2 linked regions of the Homo sapiens genome follow. The protein of the gene in region 2 purifies or fractionates together with the protein of the main gene of each other region. This does not show direct contact. Each region holds a gene or a part of one and is shown on either strand. Other genes may lie near its edges.

Region 1 (3,749 bases), on a different chromosome or scaffold from region 2:
TATTTTAGAGCAAAAAGAATGTATTTTGTTGCAATGGTGGCCCACATCTGTACAAAACAACATAAGCAACACACACACACACATATATATATGCATATATATAAAAAATGATTAAGAAAAAGTGCAAAGAATAACAGTATTAAGATTTTTTGCATTTTACAGTAACTATGGTTCAAGTGTGAATATTTATCAGGGATATATAATCCCAGGTTTTAATTAAAGATTCAAAAAGAAACCACACTCCCAAGTTACTGCACAAACATCAGTCCCTTATCAAGTAACTCTGCCCTTCTCCCAAATCTAGTATTTCCAGTTTCTAAGCTCTTCCCAAACAGGAAAAAATGATAACAGTGTTTTCTTCCCTTTAACTTCCCAAAACTCATCCAAGTTAATCACCTGTAAGTTCAAGCAAGATATTGGGGAAGTCATTCATTATAACCCGCTTTGCTAAAATTAAAGCAAAATGAAAGGCTTTCTGAAATGCAAACTACTGATCAAGAATAAAATCAGCAACAGCAAACAGACCTTAAATTACAAATGTAATTTAATACATGTACATTTTAAAATCAATCCCTGTTATCAAAGATAAATTCAGAGTTTAAATCTCTTTCCCAGGTTCAGTGCTGTGCAAGGGTTCTAATTCCAAATACTTATGATTTTATCACCTTTTCTAAGAGAAAATGTTTGCCTGTTAACTTTTTACCTTCCTTGCTCTTGGTCTCAGCTTTTCAGTTTGAATAAACACAGAAAGGCAATTTTCAGCATTTCAAAAAATGTACTTTCCTCTTAGTCATTCAAATAATTACAGTTATTTTTAGATCTCAAAGTTTCAAAAAAAGCAGCTCAATTTCCCTTTAAATATATTACTAGATATTTTTTGGTGTTGTATATGTTGTTCTATTCTTATTTTAGGCACTGTAATTATTCACAACATTACAATGACTCTATATCTAACCTATGCAACAATTATAATCTTAATACCTTCTAAGGTATTATTTGATTTTGTGTATTATATTACTATTGAATTTTTCCTTCAAGATAAATGGTTGGAAGAGAATTTTAAAGCCCTGCAGCACTTTTGCTTTGAGTAGTGTTAATACATATTTTCTGTCATGCTTAATATTTAAACTTCTGAAATAGGAAGACAAGAGGCATTGGAAGCTGCAAATTTCCTCAAACTACATTCTACTCCAACTCCAATTTATTTTGTTCAACATTAAATATTTTTCTTTACAAAAACAAGTATATCTTAGGCTAATTTTTAAAAACAGAATTTCTGCTCTATAATAACACAGCTAAAGGGAAATAACTTTTCAATTTCAGCTGCACTAGAACTATGCAAAACTAAGTTAAAGTAAACCGGACAACAATTTTAATAACTTTTGGTTTTGTTTTCTTTTTACTCTATCTTTAGAATGATATACCTTACATTCTAACAGTTCAACAAAGGCTTAAAATTCTAGAGGTTGAAAACCACCAGGCTACCTCCTGCACAACTGTCAATAAGACAACAACATTTTATTTGCCCCCATACATTCGTTCAATGTCTTTGAGGTAATGGTTCCTCAGCTCCTTCCTTTTCAGTTTGAAAGCATCAGTTACCAAACCAGTTTCAGGGGTCCATGGCTCTGGGCTTAATCGAACCTTGATTGGAATTTCAAATCGCTCCAATTTCACTGAAATTAGAAGTGAAAGATGGGAGAAAAGGAGAGGGGGGGAAAGAGACGAGAAAGGAGTGGGGACGGGGAAAGAAGGGGAAGGAGAAGCAATTAATAAAATATGAGTTTTTCAGGATTTACCTAGATGATTCGGGTGTTGAATCACCAATCACCACAAACTTATTTAATGGTATACTAGATAGTTTATTAATGCTACCTCTACCTTACAATTTCATTTTATATTTCTCAAAGTATACCTAAGTTGTTTCAGTTGGATAGTTTTAGTCTATGTGGTTATTAAAATATACATACATATACACATTATTTATACTCACACACACACACATACACACACATCTTCCTCTTCAGAGACTTTATATTTGCCTGAGATGGTCTTTCTCAATAAAGTTGTGTGTCACTTCCATACTTTATCCATATGTCTGCTCAAATACCACCACCCCGGAGAGGACATCCCTGACCACTCATAACAAAAGAGAAGGGGGAGGAGCCAAGATGGCCAAATACGAACAGCTCTGGTCTACAGCTCCCAGCCTGAGCGACACAGAAGACGGGTGATTTCTGCATTTCCATCTGAGGTACCAGGTTCATCTCACTAGGGAGTGCCAGACAGTGGGCGCAGGTCAGTGGGTGTGCGCACCATGCGCGAGCCGAAGCAGGGCGAGGCATTGCCTCACTCGGGAAGCACAAGGGGTCAGGGAGTTCCCTTTCCTAGTCAAAGAAACGGGTCACCTGGAAAATCGGGTCACTCCCACCCAAATACTGTGCTTTTCCGACAGGCTTAAAAAACGGTGCACCAGGAGATTATAGCCCGCACCTGGCTCGGAGGGTCCTACGCCCACGGAGTCTCGCTGATTGCTAGCACAGCAGTCTGAGATCAAACTGCAAGGTGGCAGGGAGGCTGGGGGAGGGGCGCCCGCCATTGCCCAGGCTTGCTTAGGTAAACAAAGCAGCTGGGAAGCTCCAACTGGGTGGAGCCCACCACAGCTCAAGGAGGCCTGCCTGCCTCTGTAGGCTCCACCTCTGGGGGCAGGGCACAGACAAACAAAAAGACAGCAGTAACCTCTGCAGACTTAAATGTCCCTGTCTGACAGCTTTGAAGAGATCAGTGGTTCTCCCAGCACGCAGCTGGAGATCTGAGAATGGGCAGACTGCCTCCTCAAGTGGGTCCCTGACCCCTGACCCCCGAGCAGCCTAAATGGGAGGCACCCCCCAGCAGGGGCAGACTGACACCTCACACGGCCGGGTACTCCAACAGACCTGCAGCTGAGGGTCCTGTCTGTTAGAAGGAAAACTAACAAACAGAAAGGACATCCACACCAAAAACCGATCTGTACATCACCATCATCAAAGACCAAAAGTAGATAAAACCACAAAGATGGGGAAAAAACAGAGCAGAGAAACTGGAAACTCTAAAAAGCAGAGCGCCTCTCCTCCTCCAAAGGAATGCAGTTCCTCACCAGCAACGGAACAAAGCTGGACGGAGAATGACTCTGGCGAGCTGAGAGAAGAAGGCTTCAGACAATCAAATTACTCCGAGCTACGGGAGGACATTCAAACCAAAGGCAAAGAAGTTGAAAACTTTGAAAAAAATTTAGAAGAATGTATAACTAGAATAACCAATACAGAGAAGTGCTTAAAGAAGCTGACGGAGCTGAAAGCCAAGGCTCGAGAACTACGTGAAGAATGCAGAAGCCTCAGGAGCCGATGCGATCAACTGGATGAAAGGCTATCAATGATGGAAGATGAAATGAATGAAATGGAGTGAGAAGGAAGTTTAGAGAAAAAAGAATAAAAAGAAACGAGCAAAGCCTCCAAGAAATATGGGACTATGTGAAAAGACCAAATCTACATCTGATTGGTGTACCTGAAAGTGATGGGGAGAATGGAACCAAGTTGGAAAACACTCTGTAGAATATTATCCAGGAGAACTTCCCCAATCTAGCAAGGCAGGCCAACATTCAGATTCAGGAAATACAGAGAATGCCACAAAGATACTCCTCGAGAAGAGCAACTCCAAGACACATAATTGTCAGATTCACCAAAGTTGAAATGAAGGAAAAAATGTTAAGG
Region 2 (3,749 bases):
TTTTTGTTTCCACAGGAGGTGGGTGTTTCTTTGTCTTCTTAGAGTCAGGATTCCAGATCTCCTGATGTGTGGGACTTTTCTTGGCCACTACGATTTCATCTACAGTCACGAGCTGTAGCACCACCTCAGCCACTGCTCGAAATCCTTGGGCTTTGACTATTAGGGTGTCCCACACCCCTTCCTGGGCCACATTTATTATCCCTTCAGTTCCCACACCCATTAGGAGGTTCCCACCTTGGTGCACTCCACTCATTTCTGCCATCACGTCTGAGACAGCTAAGCCTGCATTCTCTGCCAAAGTTTTAGGAAGATACTTCAGGGCCCAGGCAAATGCTAGGAATGCAGGCCCACTGGGCCCTTCCAATCTGCTTCCTTTATCAGAAAGCATTTTTGCCAAAGCCATTTCTGTGGCCCCAGCTCCTGGAATCAGTCTGGGATCTTGACATAGCTGGAAATAGGCATCAATGCCGTGGTAGACGGCCTGCTCTGCACTCCGCAGCCCCTGGGTGGTGGCTCCCCTGAGAACCACAGTGAGGGCAGGTGTGCCTGTACATTCCCATTCAAATACCACAGCCAAACCATCTCCCAGCTCCTGCCTGTAAACCCTCTGGCACTTGCCTGGCCTCTGGGGAGGGAGCAGACGAGGCAGCAGAGGTGTGTCCAACACCTCACTCAGGTAAATGATCTCCATCCAAGACCTAGCTTGAATCACCACGATGCCATACTTGTCCGCCAGTGTGAGGGTCTCCTCGTCGACCTCCCCCAACACCACTGCCACATTAATTCCTGCAGCTGCTAGCTGGCCTACTTGCTTTTCTAGTAATTGATCGCTTCCTTTACTAAATTGAGCTAGATCAGCAGGACTAGAAAGACGGGCCGTTGCTGGTGCATTTGGATGGGCAGGACCAAAGGGGCAAGCAAAGAGAGCCACCCTGGCACCACTTAACACTGTGGCCATTTGCCCACAGAGCTTCCCAGATATTGCTAACCCCGGGAGGAGGCAGGAATCCTCCAGTGTCCCCCCGGGCAGCGCGCACACCCCAACACGCTCAGGCTTGAAGCTGCCGTCTAGTTCCTTGATAGCCCAGCAGGCGTGGGCCACCAGCTTGGTCAAGTGGTCCATGGGGGACAGGGTGTGGGTATTCATCACAGAATGGAGGGCCCAGGATGGATCTTCCAAAGGCCCCAGAGATTGGATGGCCAGGGAGGGCAGTGTGGCCAGGACCTCTGCAGTGGCCGTGGCGTAGGCCTCCCGGAGCTGCGGGCGAGGCAGGCCAGCCTTCAGCAGCTGCTCTGCCTGTTCCAGCAAGGCTTCCGTCAGCAGAACCACGAAGGCTGTGCCGTCCCCACTATTCTCTGCCTGGGTTTGTCCTGCTTCCCGGAGGAGCCATGCTGCTGGGTGCTCCAGCTCCAGGGCCCTGAGGATGGCAGTGGCACACCCCGTGCACACTGTTTCTCCTTTCATGGTCACCAGGAACTTCTGCCGGCCGTGGGGGCCATAGCAAGGCCGGATGACACTGGCCAGGGTCTGGACTGCAGCCAAGCTGCTCAGCAGGTGGGGCTCCTCCTCTTCTGGACTCCTCGGGCTCTCCCTTGGGTTCAGTGCCAGCCGCTGGGGCAGCTCCAGGGCTGAAGGGACTGTGCTGTCCATGGCCCGCAGAGAGAGGAGAGGCCACCGTGGGTTGCAGAGATGCTCTAGAAACAGCAGCTGGGGCACTCCTGACACCGATCGTTGAAAGTACTCAAGAGGTCAGTGGAAGCAAGGAGCCAAATGCCCATTGATTGGTATCTGAAGACATCAGCACGGACCAGCACTCCACTGTGGGTCCAAGGATGAGCTCCAAAGAGCCCAGTCCTAAAGCCACCCCAGGGTTGATTCTGTAAAGGAACTGGGTCTTGGGGCCTCTCAACCTTGGTGGCTGAAATGGGATCTTTAACTGATGAAGTCACAAAGTGGAAAATGGAACCAGGATAGAGAATGAGGTCACAGAAGGCTGGTTAGAACTGAGGAGGCCCTACCAGCAGGCAAAAGTCAGGCCTTGTCCAGCAATGGAGGTACATGCACCTCTGCACCAGGTTTGAGACTTGTTTAAACGTAAGAGACAATGAGGAGGAGATCAAGTGAAAAACTACCCATTTCACCCTATCTGGAGTGCAGGGGCATAACCATGGTTCACTGCAGGCCCAGCTCCCTGGTCTCAAGCAGTCCTCCTGCTCAGGTTCCCAAGTACCTGGGACTACAGGCACACACCACCACACCTAGCTAGTTTTTTTATTTTTTGTAGAGACAGTGTTTCTGTCTGTTGTCCAGGCAGGTCTCGAATTCCTAGCCTCAAGAGAGCCTTCCACCTTGGCCTCCCAAAGTGCTAGGACTACAGGTGTGAGCCACCACCTCACCCACCCTTTTTTTTTTTTTTTTTTTGAGACAGAGTCACACTCTGTTGCCCAGGCTGGAGTGCAGTGGTACAATCTTAGCTCACTGCAACCTCCACCTCCCAGGTTCAAGCAGTTCTCCTGCCTCAGCCTCTCAGTAGCTGGGATTACAGGTGCCAGCCACCACGCCCGGCTAATTTTTTATATTTTTAGTAGAGATAGGGGGATTTCACCATGTTGGCCATGGTTGGCCAGGTTAGTCTCAAACTCCTGGCCTCAAGTGATCCGCCCACCTCGGCCTCCAAAAGTGCTGGGATTACAGGTGTGAGCCACTGCACCTGGCCTTTTTTTTTTATTTGAGAAGGAACTGAGAGATGATGTCTGTGTTTTGTTTTGTTTTGGTGTTACTTTCTCTTGCAGTACTGTGTAATATTAGCCATGTTTTGCTGTCTGCCTTTGACTTTTTGGGTATCTTATCAGTTTGTGCTTGTGTATCAGGTTTCTTAGGGTGTCTGTTGGTCTTTCAGGGTGCAGGTGTGGGAGGCTGCACAGCGTGCATGCCTGTGCCACGACTCCCAACTCTGCCTCCCTGGCAGAGGCAGGGCAAGACAAGTGGGGAAGGATGCTGACAGCTCACAGACAAATAGAAGTGAACCCAGAGGGGTGAAAAGCAACCAGCCTCCCAGCGGTCAGGGAGGTAGAAGCCTAAATGGGGTCCTGAGATTTAAATGCGAATCGCCTTCCCATCCTAACCTTCAATGCTTACAATTTAAGTCTCTTTTTTTCATTCTCTCTCCTTTCCTCACTTGTCTCCTCTTTCCTCCTATAGAGCCTACTCGGGTAATGATGCTTCTGCTTTAGTTTAACACATATTTAGTCTGGGCGTGGTGGCTCATGCATGTAATCCCTGCACGTTGGGAGGCTGAGGCGGGAGGATTGCTTAAGCTCAGGAGGTTGAGGCTTCAGTGAGCCATGATTGCACCACTGCATTCCAGCTAGGGCAACAGAGTGAGACTTGTCTCAAAAAAAATAGGGGAAAGGTCATTTGGAATCCTAGTCCAGAGATAACCATTGTTTACAACTTGATGAACATTACTACTTTGCACATATTATATGCATACATAATTATAGATTTACACCATTTTACATAAGATTATGATACATATATGCTATTCTGTGATCATTTCCCCCTCAACATTATCTTGGCTCAGAGAAATGTTTCTTTTTTTGTTTGGACATGGAGTTTCGGAGTTTCGCTCTTGTCGCCCAGGCTGGAGTACAATGGCGCAATCTCGGCTCACCCTCGGCTCACCACAGCCTCTGCCTCCCGGGTTCAAGCAATTCTCTTGCCTCAGCCTCCTGAGTAGCTGGGACTG

What was found.
Region 1: the proteins of CCT8L2 (region 2) and ACSL4 purify together in Homo sapiens (co-immunoprecipitation; 2 studies listed by BioGRID and IntAct, with this or other methods). This does not show direct contact.

What each region holds. Positions count from the first base shown.
Region 1 is NC_000023.11:109,642,511-109,646,259, forward strand, and holds part of ACSL4 (long-chain-fatty-acid--CoA ligase 4), read right to left. Parts: intron 1,677-3,749; coding exon 1,519-1,676; 3' UTR 1-1,518. UniProt on the Homo sapiens protein: Catalyzes the conversion of long-chain fatty acids to their active form acyl-CoA for both synthesis of cellular lipids, and degradation via beta-oxidation. Preferentially activates arachidonate and eicosapentaenoate as substrates.
Region 2 is NC_000022.11:16,590,900-16,594,648, forward strand, and holds the start of CCT8L2 (T-complex protein 1 subunit theta-like 2), read right to left. Parts: upstream 1,912-3,749; 5' UTR 1,652-1,911; coding exon 1-1,651. UniProt on the Homo sapiens protein: Possible molecular chaperone; assists the folding of proteins upon ATP hydrolysis.